Regions from separate parts of the Homo sapiens genome. Here region 2 is linked to region 1. The links come from fine-mapping of genetic effects on gene expression. A gene starts in region 1. The other region holds a variant in brackets. All regions are shown on one strand. Distances are between the middles of the regions. Region 1 holds the start of HMHB1 (histocompatibility minor HB-1). Region 2 has its middle 50 kb from the start of MIR5197.

Region 1 (9,691 bases):
AAGTGATGGATGTGACCACCCTGCAGTTAGAGACCATGAATTAGATGTTTGTGTAGAAACACGGAGGGGCCATACAACATAGTGGAGGTGGAAGAAGAAATAGAATTAGTTATAATCCAGTATCATTGCTGTAAATCTGAAATACACACACATGCACAAAATATCATCATATCCATTTTGCACATAAAAATATACACATTAAACACATTTATTTAGAATGATGTGGGAGGGGGGCAATGAAAGACAGAAATGGGGGTTAAGGGGAATAAATAAGCACAATAGAGGAACCTCCATGGACCACTGATGACATTGCGCCATGAACCAAAGAGTGTTATTAACTCAAGCCTCTGTTCCTGAGAGCCAGAGTAAACAAAACAAAACAAATGTGCTCCGTTGAAACTTTCAAGCTTCCTCCAAAGGGGCCTGTCAAATTGGGGATATCCTACCTGCCCTCAGTTATCCCCTCTTAGGTCCTGAAAAATGCTAAACCTGGCCTAGACCACTGAAAGGGTTGATGACGTTTCTGTGTTTCCTCTCTATCCTGTTGGGGTATTATCCATGATATTGTGATTTTCAATATGTTATATTAACCTCTATATGGTATACATCTCTTGCCACCTACTTATATTTAGGGTTCATGATTCTAAGTCCCACATATGTGGGTGTCCATGACAAAATTCCAATCTTAGATGATACTTTTTGCTGTTCTCTCTTTTTCTAATAGCAAATAATTTTCATGATAGTAAACAGCAAATCGAATAGCAAAACTTAAATGCCCATCACTAAGAGACTGGTTAAATAATTATGATACATCCTTACAATAGACTATGCAGCCACAAAAACAAATGAAGAAGGTTTTAAGGCACCAATATAGAATTAACTTGTAGACATAGAAGTAAGTGAAAAAAAAGAGCGTGGAAAATCATGGGGATAATATGCTACAATTTACAAGCTTGTATATCTCAAGCATCTCTGAAAGAATATATAAGAAACTAATATTGGTTGCCCTAAAGGAAGAGACCCAGGTGACTCTGGACAGAGATAGAAGGAGATTTTCTGTACGTTTATACCTTTTGAACTTTTGGATTATGTGACTGCATGAACTGTTTTAAATTAATATGTAAAAATCAATAAATTTGGGAAAGGGGTTAGGGAGATGTTGGTCAAAATAAACAAGAAAAGATAAAAGAGGAGGACCAAATTAAAAATATAAAATAAAATCTACCAATAAAATTTATAAATTTATAATAGTCAAGGATTAAAAGTTTTCAGAATATTATATCATATATATGTAGATACAGAATAAGCAAACAGATTAAAATGATTATAACTATGCCCGCTATTGGTAGGTATAAAGTGATGCTGAATTTTAACAACTTAATTTAAAATCTTTAATTTTAAAAATTAATTTAAAATTAAATAATTTAAAATTTTAAAAGGTTTACAGTAGGTTTAAAAGTGGTGCTGAATTTTAAAAATAACCATGTATGTCAGAACTTATACACCATGTAAAGAATAACCTGTTTAAGGTCACCTTAAGAGGTAATACACTTACTTAAATGTAGCTGCTACTGCTGAACCTATTCTGGATTTCTCTAATATAGGGTTTTAAAATTTGGGGTCCATGGAGTCTGTGGATAAGATTCAGAGGCCTGTAAATCTGGGCAGGAAAAATTATATCTTTCTTTGTACTAACCTCTTTATGAAAGTTAAAGTTTCCTGGCCAGGCGCGGTAGCTCAAGCCTGTAATCCCAGCACTTTGGGAGGCCGAGGCAGGCGGATCACAAGGGCAGGAGATTAAGACCATCCTGGCTAACATGGTGAAACCCCGTCTCCACTAAAAATACAAAAAATTAGCCGGGCGTGGTGGCGGGTGCCTGTAGTCCCAGCTACTCAGGAGGCTGAGGCAGGAGAATGGCATGAACCCAGGAGGTGGAGCTTGCAGTGAGCCGAGATTGTGCCACTGCACTCCAGCCTGGGCGACAGAGCAAGACTCCGTCTCAAAAAAAAAAAAAAAAAGGAAAAATAGAAAGTTAAAGTTTCCTTTAATTATGAAAGCAATAGTAATACCTAAATTTTTGTTACCAGTGAAAATTCTGAGTCTAATTTAATTCTGTTATTTTCATAACACATTTTAGTTTTTGCAGATATCTGTAAATATCATTCCCAGGTTGATATTAGACATTTTTAGATCTTCTTATTTAATATGTTATTAAAGAAGAAAATATGTTACTATGTCACAATTTTTAACATTTTGATAACTGTATTCAATATAATTGGCTCTTTATAATTCTATATATTTTCTTTTATACTTATAAAAATGATGATTCTGAGACAGAGTCCAGGGGCCTTACCAGAGTGCATAAGCTTCCCAAAGCACAGAAAGTTAGACCTCCACACCTCCACAAATAGATCTAATTTCAGGGCAAGAAAAGCAGTGATGATGCTTTATGACCATATGTTCTTTTTGACAAAAAAGCAGTCTTTAACAGTTTTGGCTAATTGCAAAAAGCCAATGCATTCTCAAAGGAAAAAGATATGCCAACACTGAAGATACTTTTGAGAAAATTCCATCATCAAAGAAGATGGTTTTTGTTTTTTACAGACCCAGTCTTTCTCTGTCATCCAGGTTGGGGTGCATTATTGGAGTGATCATGGCTTACTGCAGCCTCAAACTCCTGGGCTCAATTGATCCTCTGGCCTCAGCCTCCTGAGTAACTGAGGCTACATGTATGCACCACCGTGCCTGGCTAATTTTTTATTTTTTATTTATTATTTTTTTTTGTGTGGGGATGAGGTCTATGTTGACCAGGCTGGTTTCAAACTCCTGGGCTCAAGCGATCCTGCTGCCTTGGCCTCCCAAAGTGCTGGGAATTACAGGTGTGAGCCACAGTGCCTGGCTAAGATGGAGTTTTATATACAGAATTATCAGGCCTTCTTTCATATCTCATCCTCAATATGCAAATAACTAATTCATTTAGCAAATATTTATTGAACGTCCATTATGTATGAGGCACTATTGTAAGTATTGGAATAAGTGCAGTGAACAGGTCAGATATGGTAACTGCCTGGATGGAGTTTATGTTATAATGGAAGCAAATAGACACAAGAAATATGATCGCATCAGGTATTTATAAGTGTTATGGTGAAAATAATGCAGAGTAATCTAATCTAGGGAGTGAGAGGGTGACTAGGGTCACCCATGTGGTGGCTAGGTGCCTGGGTCTGGCGTTGCACTTCTTCCATTCAAATCCTGGCTCCATGCACCTCTGGCTCTATGGCCTTGTCCAGTTGTGCACTCTCTAAATCCCAGTTTTGTTACCTGTAAAATGGACATATTAACATTACCTACTTTAAAGAGGTGTTTTAAAGAAAATGGCTACTCCTAACATCTCCCCAAGAACCAAGCACAGAATTTTGGAAGTTTTAATATATTTTCTTAAAGAAGTCTCTTTCTCAGCATTGTAAGACAATTAACTAGATTCAAGTCTCAGAGTTGTTAAGTTATTTTATCTTAAGGCATCCAACGGCACAGATTGACATTAAAGTGAAAGAAGAACTAGCTTCATCATTGCCATTGTTCTTTACCATAGCCCATGGGAACACAGGACCCGGCTGACTGAGAAAAGTGAATGAGGGGAATTATATCAGAAATGACAGAGAAGGATGGGCAGGATTTCTGGCAGGCACAGGTATTTCTAAGTAAGAAATGGTGTGGTTAGGAGAGAATACTCTCAAGAAGGGGAGAGATGGATTCTGCGGCAAAGGGAGGTTCCTTCATTCAGTGTTTATGGAGAGAATAAAGGCGCTGGCCCCTCCAGTGAGGATATGGAGTAAACGAGACAATCAAGTCCATCACTCCTGGAGCCTGCATTCTAGTGTGGAAGACAGACAGCAAATGATACATCAACATTAAGAAATTCATGAGTAAATAAAGATAATTTCAGGCAATAATAATTACTCTGAAGAACATAAACAGGGACCTATGATAGAAAAGGGGTGTAAAGGAGTTTGGAGGATTTAAGCTGAGTGAGCAATCTCATCTCTATTTTGATAAGGTCACTGTGGATTCTGTGTGGATAACACATTGGATGTGGATAAGAACAGGAGCAGAGAGACCTCCAATAGCAGGAGGCTGCTCTAGGGGTCCTTGCAAGGGATGCTGGCAGCTTGGACCCGAGTGGTGGGATGCAGATGGAAGAGGCAGGTGGACAGATGAGACAGCTGAAGCAGGAAAAGCAGGCACAAAGGCTAACACAACACAATGTAACAGAACGGGAGTTTAGAACGGAAGGAACACTCCAGAGTCATTCTGGTCCAATTCTGCAGATGAGGAAACCACATCCCAGGAGGCCGAGGCGGCTTGCCCCGCATCTCAGAAGCCGGGCAGGCCCTGAGCCTTCTGACCTCACATCCTCTGCCACACCACAGTGGAGAAACCAGAACTGGAGGAGCAGCCAGAATGCAGAGAAGAAAAAAGAGGTGAGGGAGCGAGGAGGAGGGAGAACAGAGAGAGAGGGAAAGAGGCAGCGAAGGGGCAGAGAAAATGAAAGAAAATGCTGGTGGAATGAGAGGGAAACCACAACAGGTGAAAACAGGGATGGCGGAAGGCAGGGGAGAGGAGTGAGACGGCCCTTGTTGCTGGGATTATTTAGGGCGGATAGTTTCCAGTTGAGGTTCGGTTTCATAGCCCATTGCCTGGCTGCCTGCAGCTGTCAGGGCACCAGAGGCAGCAGTTGGAGCAGCTGCCTGCACCACCTGAGCCACAAGGACAACGGCAAGGGAAGTGCAGATGGGCAGGAAGTCCCTCTGGGTCGGAGCCAGGGTAGCCAAGATCACATTGTTCTTGCCCACCGCGTGGGATGCTCAGGCTTCCCAAGGCAGCCCAGAGACCAGACCCGTCCTTTATCCTTAGCATGGCCACCATCATCACCATCATCGCCATGCTCCCACTTCTTAGGATCATGTGCCGGGGGCTTTGCATGCATTTCTCTCTTTCATCCTCACAGAAGCACTTGAGGGGGGTATAGCTTTCCCCAGTTTACAGATAAAGACACGATGGCTTCATTCCTTAACTCACTAACCTCATTTCAGAGCCAGGAAATGGCAGAAAGGCCCTGCTGTCGTGTTTTTTGTTTGTTTGTTTGTTTTTTTGTCTTGTTTTCTCCTCTTGAAGAGGACACACGGAGCCCTGGGTTGACGTTATAGGAGGTGTTGGTGCCGTGCACTGAAGGGATCTGCTGTTTTCTCCTTCCTGCAACTGGAGGTCACTCAGCCTGGACTGATGAGGCCGGGGAAGCCTGTGCTCTGTCTGGTCCACACAGCCCCCTCAGCCACCCCAGGGAATGCTCAGATCCAGTTGCACAGGTAGCCCACAGAATACAAACAGAACTTTCTTTTAGAATTTTTATGCTGTTTTATTGTTTCATACAGACAACTACCGACCTTCCCTTTTTTCCTTCAAGGCCCCTTTCAAATGTCACCTCTTCTATGAAGGTTTTATTTCTTTCCAGGCAAAATAAACCACTCCCTTTTTGGTGCCCTCATAGTTTTACATTTTGGCCTAAAGCACTTGTTCGCCTCCTCCATCAGAGCATGGGATTCTTGAGGGAAGGAACTGTGTTTTAATCATTTCTGTATCCTTGGCATCTAGCACAGTGCTTGGCACAGTAAAAGCTGTCAATAAATGTTAGCTGAACTGAAAAGTAAAAAATGGAAAGGGCATTTGTTGGGGCCAGCATAAGTCAACTGTTTCCATCCTTGTTTCCTTAACTCAGAAACTCAAATGAAGAAAGACATTGTCAGTCTCATGAGCAGTCCATATTTTTTTTTATTGGTGAGAGATAAAGTAAATGGCATGTGGATTTCCTTTGGAAGAATAACAAATAAAATTCTTTTGTAAGGATGTGAATTATAAAATTAACTTTTTTTATCTCCAGATTGTCATTTTGCAAGGAAAAAAATATAAGTAATAAATATGAACATACCTTTTTTATTTCAGACTTTTGCTCCATAGGCAATAGAAATGAGATGGCCAATTACAGTATTGAAGCAGAAGTACAGATATAACTCAGTGCAGAGGCAAATATGGCACATGATATTTTCATATTTTTATGTGTTACTATGAGTAACACTATTGCAAATTCATTTTATTTATGATTTGGTCTTTGTAGCTCCAATTTCATTATTAACTGAAATTTCATAGCATCATTCTTACTGACATGCATTGAAGATAAAAATGTTCTATATTTTCCTCATCTATCCTTGTCTTTTTCTTTATTAAAAATGTAGCCATTGGCAAAATAAAAGAACTAGCAATAAGCATACTGAAATCACAACTGAGACACATGACAATAATCTATAACCATGACACCTGTCCAGGCTGCATCCAGCCAAATATGGATCCAAAAAAAGGAATACTCATATTTGTTACTTATATTTTTTTCCTTGCAAAATAACAATTTGGAGATAACAAAAAGTTAATTTTATAACTCATATCCTTATAAAATACTTTTATTTGTTATTCTTTGTCTCTCGTCAATAGAAAAAAATATGGACCGCTCATGAAATTGACAATGTCTTTCTTTATTTGAGTTTTTGAGTTAAGGAATAAGGATGGAAACAGTTGACTTACACTGGCCCCAACAAATGCTCTTTCCATTTTTTGCGTTTCAGTTCATAGTAGGAGCTCACTCAGGACTTAGCTGTCAGAGAGAGGACAGTCTGAGGCCTATGTGCACTTCCCAGCACAACATCTCACATCCTCCTCATTTTTTATCACTCAAGATATTGAAAAACTAATATGCAAGGATGCTGTCATTATAGGGGTAATCTTCAATCGTCTCTAATTATATTTAAAATTATGTCATAAACTTCAGAAAGTAACCAGTATTAGTGTATACCTTATTATTAGCATAATCCAAGCTGGCCTCACCTACAAATAGAGTCATAATTATAAAAATTTTATCTTTTAGTCTCCTACTTTCTCAAAATGGAATTTGTCCCCACTAAAAGTTATCCTTCAAAGTAGTGCTTCACCTGTGCCCACAAATACCTGTGGCTATTGCACAAATATTGTGTGGCTTCTACCAGGTTTTCTTCCTGACCTAGCTCTCATTTGTTGATATTTGTTATCCCGTCAAACCTTTCTGTTGCTCAGCTTTGCAGCATGGATGGTGCAAAAATGCAAATGTTGCTCTGTCTGATACTGTTCCCAAAGCTGGCAAATTGTAGGATGTCACCATGGGGCAAGCTCCATGAATGAAGGGATTAGGGGTGAAGAGAAGAGAGAACTGACCTTTCTAACAAAGTTCAGAGACCTAAATTACTGAACTTTTCCCTAATTCTGTATTAGTTTCCTATTGTTGCTATACTGAATTACCACAAATTTAGTAGTTTAAATCTGCACAATTCATTATCTTACAGTTAAGAGGACAGAAATCCAATCAGGGCCTTATTTGGCTATAGTCAAGGTGTCAGTGGGGCTGTGGTTTTAGCTGAAGGCTCTTAGGGAGAATCCTTTTCCTTTCCTTTTCCAACTTACAGATTTACCTGCATTCCATTGCTCATGGTCCCATCTTCCGTCTTTAAAGCTAACAATGTTGCAGCTCTCTAACCTTTTTTCAAAGTAATGTATCCCTTTAACTTTCCTGTTTTGCTTCCCTCTTCTACTTTTTACTTTTTCTTTTTTCCTTGTATTTTTTTCTTTTTTTTTTTTGAGATGCAGTCTCGCTCTGTCGCCCAGGCTGGATTTGGAGTGCAGTGGCGCAATCTTGGCTCACTGCAACCTCCACATTTCGGGTTCAAGTGATTCTCCTGCTTCAGCCTCCTAAGTAGCTGGGATTACAGGTGAGCGCCACCATGCCTGGCTAATTTTTGTATTTTTTTTTTTTTTTGAGACGGAGTCTCGCTCTGTCGCCCAGGCCGGACTGCGGACTGCAGTGGCGCAATCTCGGCTCACTGCAAGCTCCGCTTCCCGGGTTCACGCCATTCTCCTGCCTCAGCCTCCCGAGTAGCTGGGACTACAGGCGCCCGCTACCGCACCCGGCTAATTTTTTGTATTTTTAGTAGAGACGGGGTTTCACCTTGTTAGCCAGGATGGTCTCGATCTCCTGACCTCATGATCCACCCGCCTCGGCCTCCCAAAGTGCTGGGATTACAGGCGTGAGCCGCTGTGCCCAGCCCTCTTTTCCACTTTTAAGGGCCCTTTTATTACATTAAGCTTTCTCAGATAACCCAAAAGAATCTCCCTATTTTAAGGTCACCTGATTAGCAATCTAAATTCCATCTGCAAACTTAATTATCCTTTGCCATAGTTCTGAGGATTATGACATGAGCATCTTGGGGGAGAATATTATTCTGCTACCAAGAATATATTTTTTAAATATTCTCATTTCCATAGGTTATTGTGGAGTAGGTGGTGTTTGGTTACATGAGTCAGTTCTTTAGTGGTGATTTCTGAGATTTTGGTGCACTCATCACATGAGCTGTATACATTGCATCCTATTTGTAGTCTTTTATCCCTCACTCCCTTCCCACCCTTTCCCCCTGAGTCCCCAAAGTCCACTGTGTCATTATTATGCCTTTGCGTCCTCACAGCTTAGCTCTCACTTATGAGTGAGAATATATGATATTTGGTTTTCCATTCCTGAGTTACTTCACTTAGAGTAATACTCTCCATTCTCATCCAGGTCACTGTGGATGCCATTAATTAATTCCTTTTTATGGCTGAGTAGTATTCCATTGTATATATATACCACAGTTTCTTTATCCACTCATTGATTAATGGGCATTCGTATTGGTTCCATGATTTTGCACGTGCAAATTATGCTGCTATAAACATGTGTGTGCAAGTATCTTTTTCGCATAATGACTTCTTTTCCTCTGGGTTGATACCCAGTAGTGGGATTGCTGGATCAAATGGTAGCTCTACTTTTAGTTCTTTAAAGAATCTTCACACTGTTTTCCATAATGGTTGTACAAGTTTACATTCCCACCAGCAGTGTAAAAGTGTTCCCCGTTCACTGCATCCATGCCAGCATCTACTGTGCTTTGATTTTTTGATTATAGCCATTCTTGCAGAGTAAGATGGTATTGCACTGTGGTTTTGATTTGCATTTCCTTGATCATTAGTGATGCTCAGTGTTTTTTCATATGTTTGTTGGCCATTTGTATATCTTCTTCTGAGAATTGTCTATTCATGTCCTTAGCCCACTTTTTGATGGGATTTTTTTCTTCCTTGCTGATTTGTTTGAGTTTGTTGTAGATTCTGGATATTAGTCCTTAGTCCTTTGTCACATGTATAGATTGTGAAGATTTTTTTCTCACTCTGTCAGTCATCTGTTTACTCTGCTGTTTCTTTTGCTGCGTAAAAGCTCTTTAGTTTAATTAAGTCCCAGCTATTTATCTTTGTTTTTATTGCCTTTGCTTTTGGGTTCTTGGCCATGAAATCCTTGCCTAAGCCAATGTCTAGAAGGGTTTTCCCAATGTTCTCTTCTAGAATTTTTATAGTTTCAGGTCTTAGATTTGAGTCCTTAATCCATCTTGAGTTGATTTTTGTATATGGTGAGAGATGGGGATCCAGTTTCATTCTCCTACACGTGGCTAGCCAATTATCCCACCACCATTTGTTGACAAGGGTGTCCTTTCCCCACTTTATGTTTTTGTTTGCTCTGTCAAATATCAGTTGGCT
Region 2 (9,691 bases), 83 kb before region 1:
TATTTTTTGAGATGGAGTCTCACATCACTGCCCAGGCTGGAGTGCAACGGCATGATCTCAGCTCACTGAAACCTCCATCTCCTGGGTTCAAGCCATTCTCCTGCCTCAGCCTCCCAAGTAGCTGGGACTACAGGCATGCGCCACCACACCTGGCTAATTTTTGTATTTTTAAAAGAGATGGGATTTCACCATGTCTCACCAGGCTAGTCTTGAACTTCTGACCTCAAATGATCCACCCACCTCAGCCTCCCAAAGTGCTGAGATTACAGGCGAGAGCTACCACGCCCAGCCAGGTCTCGTCTTTTTATCTGGCTTTCCACTCTATACCTTTTAAGTGGTGGCATTTAGACCGTTTGCATTCAGGGTTAGTTTTGATATGTGAGATTTTGATTCTTTCATTGTGTTGTTAGCTGGTTGTTTTGTAGACTTGATTGGTATAGTTGCTTTATAGTGTCTGTGGGCCATGTGCTTAAGTGTGTTTTTGTTTTAGCAGGTGTCTTTCTTTTGTTTCTATGTTTAGCATTTCCTTAAGGACTTCTTGTAAAGCTGGTCTAATAAATTTCCTTAGCATCTGCTTAGTCTGAGAAGGATTTTATTTCTCTTTCACTTATGAAACTTAGTTTGGCAGGATATGAAATTCTTGGTTGGAATTTGTTCTCTTTAACGATGCTGAAAATAGGCCCTCAGTCTCTTCTGCTTTGTAAATTTTCTAAGAGGTCTGCTGCTAGCCTGACAGGGTTCCCTTTATAAATGACCTGACTCAGGCTGGGTGCAGTGGCTCATGCCTGTAATCCTGGCACTTTGGGAGGCCGAAGTGGGTGGATCATGAGGTCAGGAGATCGAGACCATCCTGGCTGGCATGCTGAAACCCCATCTCTACAAAAAATGCAAAAAAGAAAAAAAAATTAGCTGGGCGTGGTGGCAGGCGCCTATAGTCCCAGCAACTCGGGAGGCTGAGGCAGGAGAATGGCATGAACCCAGGAGGCAGAGCTTGCTGTGAGCTGAGATAGTGCCACTGCACTCCAGCCTGGGTGACAGAGTGAGACTCCATCTCAAAAAAAAAAAAAATGACCTGACTCTTCTCTCTGGTTACCATTAACAGTATCTCAGAGGGGTTCTCTGTATTTATTGAATTTTCATGTCATCCTCTCTAGTAAGAGTGGGGAAATTTTCGTGGATTATATCCTAAAATATATTTTCCAAGTCGCTTACTCTCTCTCCTACTCTTTCAGGAATGCCGATGAGTCGCAGATTTCGTCTCTTTATGTAATCCATGTTTCTTGGGGATTTTATTTATTTATTTGAGACAGGGCCTCACTCTGTCACCCAGGCTGGAGTGCATTAGTGCAATCATGGCCCACTGTAGCCTTGACTTTCCAGGCACCAGTGATCTTCCCACCTCAGCCTCCTGTGTAGCTGGGACTATAGGTGTGAACCAATATGCCCAGCTAATTTTCGTATTTTTGATAAAGATGGGGTCTCACCATGTTGCCCAGGCTGGTCTTGGACTCCTGAGCTCAAGTGATCCACATGTATTGACCTCTCAAAGTGCTGGGATTACAGATGTGAGCCACTGTGCCTTTACAATTTTATTTTATTTTATTTTTTGAGATGGAGTCTCGCTCTGTCGCCCAGGCTGGAGTGCAGTGGCACGATCTCAGCTCACTGCAACCTCCGCCTCCCGGGTTGCTGCCATTCTCCTGCCTCAGCCTCCTGAGTAGCTGGGACTACAGGCACCCGCCACCATGCCTGGCTAATTTTTTGTATTTTTAGTAGAGATGGGGTTTCACTGTGTTAGCCAGGATGGTCTCAATCACCTGACCTCGTGATCCATCTACCTCGGCCTCCCAAAGTGCTGGGATTACAGGCATGAGCCACCACGCCCAGCCCACAATTTTACTTTTAAAAATTCTTTTTTCTTTATTTTTGTCCGAGTTGATTTGCAGAACTGGTCTATGAGCTCTGAGATTCTTTCCTCAGCTTGGTCTAATATGCTGTTAATGCTTCTGACTGAGTTATGAAATTCTTGTAGGGAGCTTAATTCCAGAAGATCAGTTTGATTCTTTCTTAAAATGGCTATTTTGTCTTTCGGCTCTTAGATAGTTTTACTGGATTCCTTGGATTCAGTTTTAACTTTCTCCTGAATCTTGATGAGCTTCTTTGCCATACAGATTCTGAATTCCTTATCTGTCATTTCAGTCATTTCATTTTGGCTAAGAATCATTGCTGGGGAGCTAGTGGGCTCATGTGGAGGTAAAGGGGTGCTCTGGATTTTAGAGTTATAGAATTCTCACACTGGTTCTTTCTGATTTGTGTGGGTTGATGTTCCTTTAACCTTTGAAGTTGCTGTCCTTTGGATGGGGCTTTTAACTTTTACGTTCTTCACATTTTTTTCTCCAACACACCATTGCTGGTTTGAAGCTTTTAAATTTTTCAATGCCCTTAAAGGTTTGACAGTAGTATAAGTTGGGTTTAGTTGACTGGCGTCATTTCTGGATGCTTTCAGAAGTCCTAGGCTCAGCTTGGCACTCTTGGGCTGCCTGCTTTAACTCTGGGAGGGACTGGGACTGGGTCTGTGGCTTTGTTCTCTGGTTTCTCGATGTCAAACACTGGCTGCACTGAGGGGGCCGAGGTGCTCCCTCTCCACTGGCAATCGTGCTCCATCAGGGGCTGCTGGCAAAAGCACTCCAATGGGATGGCAGTGGGGCCACAGGTGAAAGTGCTCCACTGGGCCAGCAACGGTCTTGGGTGAAAGTGCTCCAGCATGGTGGTGTAGTGAGGCGGCTCTGAAGTTTCAGTGAGCCATTGGTCTACAACTAGTAGCAGCTCCTGTACCTTCCCCCAACCCCTACGTTTTGTTGAAGGAGAGGTTATATTACTTCTCACTCCATAAGGCATTTCCTTAATCCAAAAGATTAGGTGATACTGTGGTTTGATTGTGATGCTTAAGAATGCAGTCTGAGTTTTCAAATCAATGACACTTTGAGTAATTTAGAAAATGCTTTAAATGACTCCAAACTCTAGCTTGTGGAGTTTATTTCATATAGTTAGTTTTCTATAAAACGTCATTAAGTCTCCCTTTCTCTTTCTGTTGGCCCTTGGTCACCAACCAGAAAAGGACATCCAGAGTTGGGATGGAAGGTAGACCTTAGTTCTATTAGAGAAAATGTAAAAGCATTTTCCCTATGCAAGGGAATTCCTTGACCATAACTTGATTACTGGGGACAGCAAATTTGAATAACTAGTAAACTTAAAAACCAGCTCTGCAATTCAATAATATAGCCTCAGACATTGAGAAAAGCACTTAAATAAATCTCACATGCTACAAACTAATGAAACTTTCCAAAGGAAAAAAAAGTAAATATATATGTATTGTAATATAAAACAAAAGGAAAATGGGGCTAAAATAAATTGAAAGGGCCCTCAGATATTTAAAACCAATAAAAATACTATATTTTGGGAAGATTTTAAAAGTATCATTGGAAAAAGCAGTACTGGCAAATTCTGTCCTTTTTCCCCCCTGAATTTGTTTTCTTCTTAAATTAAAACTCACAGCAAAAAAAAAAAAAAAAAAAAAAAAAAAAAAAAAAAAAAAAAAAGCAAGCAAGCCTCTCTAGCTGGGCTATGAGGAATACTATTCATTTCTCCATTTCTCCCCCTGACCTGATTAGTTGGAACATCTTTCGAATGATTAGTTTTCAATTTGCACCATTGTCAGAGAGAAAGGCCTCCAAATTAATGGCCACATTGATTGTTTATGCCTCCAAGAGACAAATTAAAAAAATTTCAGCAACGCTGAAAAGAAATAGTGATCTTCTGAAAAGATTTAGCTTAATAGATTTTTTAAAAAGAAAAATGAAGGTTTTGGCAACTTGCAAAAAGTATGTTTAAAATTCCAGTTACAAGTCTGGCTGCCTAGAGAGTTTGAGTACTAAGGGTTTTGTCGATTTTTAGCATAAGAAGCTGACCTAAGATTTTGGGATCCTTGGACCCATCAGTGGAAATTTTGATAGAACTGCAATTCTGGCTCATACATAGGGCCCATTTACCATGCTCACTTCCTTTTAATAAGAAATGCTGTGCCTCACATCTTCCCTCCATTGTCCTTCCTGGGTAGTTCATCCTCTCTGCCTCTGCTTTTGGAACCACACTAAAAATTCAAGAGGAAAGGTTTCTACAAACATTGTTCTGTTTGGTTGGCACAGAAGGGACAGGAATTTGCACAGAGCTTTTGTCGGGCAAGTTTCTCTTAATTCCCTGCCAATGAAGTTGTAATGCTGTGTCTCAGATGAAGAAAGGTAACAACAGATGAGACAACTATTCACTCCATCTTACATTTACTCTAAAGAACTGCAATATGTTTTTGCAGCAGGGGAAGGACCACATTAGAAGTAAGCTTACTTTCATTATTGATATTTACCTTGTTGAAATTGGCCAATATAATGATGCAATGGCTATTCATGATAGCAGCATGCCCAAAATTGTAGCTCACTGAGGACCAATAATGATCAATGTTCAAGGATGAGAAATATAGTAATGTTTTCTCTGTTCTTGTTGAGGTTTGATGATTGTTGTTTATGCCATGGCAAATGAGGTTTCATTAGATATTAACATAGTTTCCATGATTTAAATTGGTGTTGAATGCCCATTTTTCTCAATATCATCTCATTTCCTTAACTTTCTTATGTGTCTGAACCTGGTGGTCATACTCCCTCTCAAATCCCTCTTTGTAAATTCTTTGATGTGGGTCAGCACAAAAAAGAGGTGTCAGTCTCAAATGACACCTTATTTCAATGAGGTCCAATTATGGTCAAAGAGATGGTCAAAACCAACAATTTATGGAATATTAAACTGGTAAAGGCAGAGATCAAACTGATCATCTAAGGCTTGGTATCCAGCATTTGAAGCCCTACATGCCCCCCGTATTACTAAGCCCAGACCTGCTGTTGGCAGGTCAGCACAATCAAGATTGCTTCACACAACTGCAAACTGAATGACCAAGCACTGTGTAGCGTAATGGGGCCCTGCAGTCATCACTTATAAAACCCAGAACCATAACATGGATCATGTGTTCCATATGAATTGCCATGGTTGTATATCTAATTTTTTCCCTGTCCCAAACTATGGTACTAGTTATTCACAGCAGATTGGTAATATTTTGTAAAACCAATGCTTTGACTATGTGATATTAACACTCACGAGGACCTGATAACTTCCAAACACAGCAGAACATTTGGACACTTGTCACCTGAGTCCTGTGCCAGCTATACCAACTTGGCTGAACTGTTGTCATATTCCACTAGTCTCTACCTAAGGTCATCTCCAGTCTTGGCTCACTTAGCTAGCTTTGGAATTTGCTCTCCCCTTTATCCAATGCTTCCTCTTCTTTGTTACATTATATTGCTCAGGTCTTTTAAAAATCTGTAGAACAAGCTCTTGCTTGAAGCCTTCCTGAAGTCATTGGTTCCACTTTTTTTTTTTTTTTCAGGCCAGAAAAAATAGCCTCTGATTTACTTTCCTGGGTGATGCACTATTAAAAATTCTATGATTATATAATATTTCCTATTGCAGAATATCTCTTGTTATACTGAAAGCTATTGAAAACTGCCCTTAATAGATACTTTAAGGTGTCTAGTGGTATATATCAAGCTGGGTTGGGGAGCAAAGGTAGCGGGTTGTGTAAACCCCTTTCTACCAGGAGGTTTCCCTGGTGGAAAGAGTATTTTTTTAAGTCACTGGCATTGTTTAGAATTGCTGGTGCATGGTAATAATAAGCAGACTAGCTTTCAGTTGGGTTTATTATCATTTTTAAGTTATCTACAGACAATGAACCCCTTTATACCTTGGCAGACTGCTCTCACTTCAACACCTTCCCCCTTGTATATCACTGTTCAAAGCAACCCCTAAATGATCAAATTATATATGAGAACAAAACATTCCTGAAAGATCCTCCTTATTGAAGTACATATTTCACATGGCATAGTCAAAGTTTTCAAAGACTATAGGGAAAGGAGCCGCACACT[CTG/C]TGTACATAAGTAATTGCAGTTATTCTCATGTGGCCTAAGACTACAAAACACGCTTGCATCGGCTTTTGTGCTCTAGCACTGTCCTTCTGTTAATACAAATGAATTAAAGAAATTAACCAATTTCTTAGAGTCTACATAATCTCACATTTCTTAATTTGTTGGATTTGTCTCCACTATACTCAGCTTAATCTCTTTTGTGGTCTCCCCTCATTTAAGTAAAACTCGTAACAATTCACAACAAATAATCAAGCCAAATGAAATTTTTTTTTCTTTCTGAGGACTATGAGACCTGAAGGTCCCTACATATAAGGTCATGTCCGATAGTTCACCTTCTTACCTCTCAAACACTTTTGCTATTTTTTCAATGTCTTTCTTCCCAGCGAACTAGTTAGGGAAGTGTAGGGGGCATGAAAGCGTGTGTGGAGATGGGTGCATGGAAGCGTTTTAGGGCCAGGGTAGAATGACACATCCCACAAGTACTCATACCCTACATTACTTATTGGCAGAATTCAGCCACATGCCACACCCAGCAGCAAAGGAAGCTGCAAAATGTAAACCCATGAAGAAGAGGAGATGAACACTGGTGACTAGTTAGTGGTCTCTACTACACCACCAGTTAGTCAGGAGAAGGGCAAACTCAATCTTGTCACTGCCAAAAATCTTGTGCTCGGGTGCATTGCCTCACACATTGTAGATTCGTAGAAAACACCTGCCAATTAGGTTTGTGCTAAGTATTCTATGAACGATAAGGAAAGAGTGGGCCTGCAGTAATCTTCAAAAACTTTAATCAAGTCTTACTTCTAATAGACCAGCCAATCTGCTAAAAAAACCAAGAGGAGACTCAGCAGATCCCATGAATGTTGATGAAGTTTGATCATTTTGTGGAGAATTATGAAATCAAGGACAATTTATAACAATTCACTAAAAAATGGTTGCAGGGCTTGTTAACTTTCTAAGTAATCAGTTTATGCACACGTATATTTGATTACATAAGCTATTTGCATGTTTATATATAGAGAAAGAAAAATAATTGGTGTTATGTGGTTTTCAGAGACAAAAGAGAGGACATGTAAACATTTGCATTGAACAGACAGAGCCTAAATTCAAGATCTCAGTATAAGGCATCCTGGAATAAATGGGAGACAATATTTCCTGTTTTCAGTTTCCCTTACTATTGCATGTCACTTAGAAAGCCTAGCAACCAATTTATAAGCCCTCACAGATCAATCACTGCTAGGCAGTAGCCCACATTGTGTTCTAATTCTAAGCATTTCTTCTTGTCTCAGAAATGAACACCGATGTAGATTAACCATGTCTACATAGAGGACATGGTTAATTCTTTCAGGTACCATATGAGAACAATGATGACTAATGGGAAACATTTTTAAGATCACAAGAGAACAGTATATTAACAAGCAAAAAATGTAATCATCTCAAAATAACAGGCATTAACAAACCTGTATACTGCAGAGATGCATTGTTCCTGCATGCAAAGAAACTGATGAAATGATTCCCACTGCTATGCTCAGAGAAAAATTAAGTGACAGGTCCCTTTTATTTAGGAGTGTGCTGTTTTTTTTTTTCCCTGATGATGGACTGATGATATTATATAAAGGGTTATATAGTGAAGTCATGCTACATCAAATTACTGCTTACACAGGATGCTTCTGAACCATTTAACCTGATACTACAGAATAAAACATGTGTAATCAACAAGCACTAAAAAGGAATGAATACGTAACAAGAATGATCCTTCACTTACCTGAAGAATGTGCATGAATTCTATTCAATGACAGTTTTAATCGATTGTACCTCTTTGATTTTGGCATCCAGATCAACTCCCTACTGATTACTTAGAGGACCCATTGATACTTGGAAATGAATGACTTAAATACCCATAAATATGAAGAACATGGCATAATGTCAGAATTGAAACATTGCTCAGACCCATGACCTAGCCAGTGGCTCCAATTAACAATATTAAACCAGTGATTCTCAAACTTTAGGATGCATCAGAATCACCTGGATGGTTCATTAAAACACATGTTGCCGGACGCCAGTCCCAAGTTTCTGATTCAGTAGATCTGAGGTACAGTCTGAGAATTTGCATTTCTAACAGCTTCACAGGTATTGCTGATGCTGTTGGCGCAGGGGCCACACTTTGAGAACGAATGCATTAAATTAATAATCAAACATCTGATTGAGGAACCACCATATGCCTGGAAATACAGAATAACTGAATTTCCCATTAAAGCGTTGGAGATATTACCCAAACCACACATTTTTATGATAGCTATCATATCAACTTTTATTTAAAATCTTAATCTCCCCCCCTCCCCCACTGACAGAGCAAAATGAACAAAATAAACGATTCAACCCCCCTTCCCATTACCTTGCATCAGAGTCTTCTTGGAAGCTCTACCAAAATAACTCTACATCTTCTTCAGAATCTTTTTTCAGCCTCATTACATTTAGGGAAAAGAATGCAGGTTCCTCTTTGGCACTGTGTCCTCAGCTAGTCTGTGGGAAGCTCAGCAACTTGCCACTTGTTCCCAGTTTAAGTAACAGGAATGAGATCATCAACATTTTCTATTGGGTCTCCTCAATCTCCTCCTGATTCTGGTTTAATACTGGTATGCAATGGACATGTTGAACCCCAATGGTTAAGAAACTCTAAAACTTTTGGCTATGTGCTGGAAGGACCCCGAGAGACAGTCTATCCTGGGTTAAATTCAGCCGCATATCTGTTTTGTTTGGCTGGTACTGTGTTTCAGGAAGAACTGTGCCTGAATGCCTTCAGGAGGCGCATGCTCTCAGTGGCTTGTACTTCCCCCTGATTTGCCGCTGACTTCACGCATTTACATTACCTGCCTGGCCCTGTAGGTCATTGCAATTGAAGTACCTGAAAAACCCTCTGCTTTAACAAATGAGGAAACTAGGCTTTGAAAAAATTAAGTAACTCTCACAGAGTCATGCTGATAGCTAGTGACAGAACAGGACTACAACTAATAGCTCAAGATCCTCTCTCTCTCTTTTTTTTTTTTTTTTTTTGCTGCTTTCTCAACTTCTGGAGTCTCTATTGGTGTCAACACAGACTTTAGACAAGAACTTGATCAGCATCGCCTGCCTCACTCTGTATTACTTTAAGGTTATACCTATCACAGTCACCCACCTCAGTCTATCAGATGTGCTCCATACCTTTCTCAACATGGTACCTTCCTGTGGAGTGCTTTGAAACATGTTGAGACACGACTTCACATTTTTTGGTTTGTAGAGGAAGAAAATACGTGAGTAAGTCCAAGGTAAAAGAAACAACTTGAGCTCTGGCTTTGGAGTCACTGATAGAAATAGTATAGATTTTCACAAAGGCATCCTTATAAATAAAGCCAACAAAAACCAAACAAAATAAAACCAAACAAAATTAGACTTCAAATAAAAGGCCAATGCCACAATCTGGGTTTGAAACATAGTAAAGACAAGAAAGAGAAAGTTTCTCCCTGGTCTTCCTTAATTTGGCTGCCTGTGCTATTCTCCAAATTCCTTTTATCATCATTAGGTGGAGAACATTCATTCACCTGCTCCAATTTGACCTTCTTGTTTTAATGGTCAAGCAAAGCACAGGGCAGGAGAACTAAAAGCAGTGGTTCGCAAGATTAAGCATACAT

What was found. PIP is the estimated chance that this variant, and not a neighbour inherited with it, causes the effect.
Region 2: its variant is fine-mapped to the expression of HMHB1 in lung (TOPMed, PIP above 0.99).

The regions. Positions count from the first base shown.
Region 1 is chr5:143,807,823-143,817,513 of GRCh38, forward strand. It overlaps HMHB1 (histocompatibility minor HB-1), which reads left to right and starts at 4,339. Exons shown (of 2, transcript NM_021182.3): 1 at 4,339-4,482. The coding sequence starts at 4,446.
Region 2 is chr5:143,725,320-143,735,010 of GRCh38, forward strand. No RefSeq gene overlaps it. Among named protein-coding and RNA genes, the nearest start is that of MIR5197, 50 kb to the left of the region's middle. The variant CTG/C (reference allele first, on the strand shown) is at 6,024.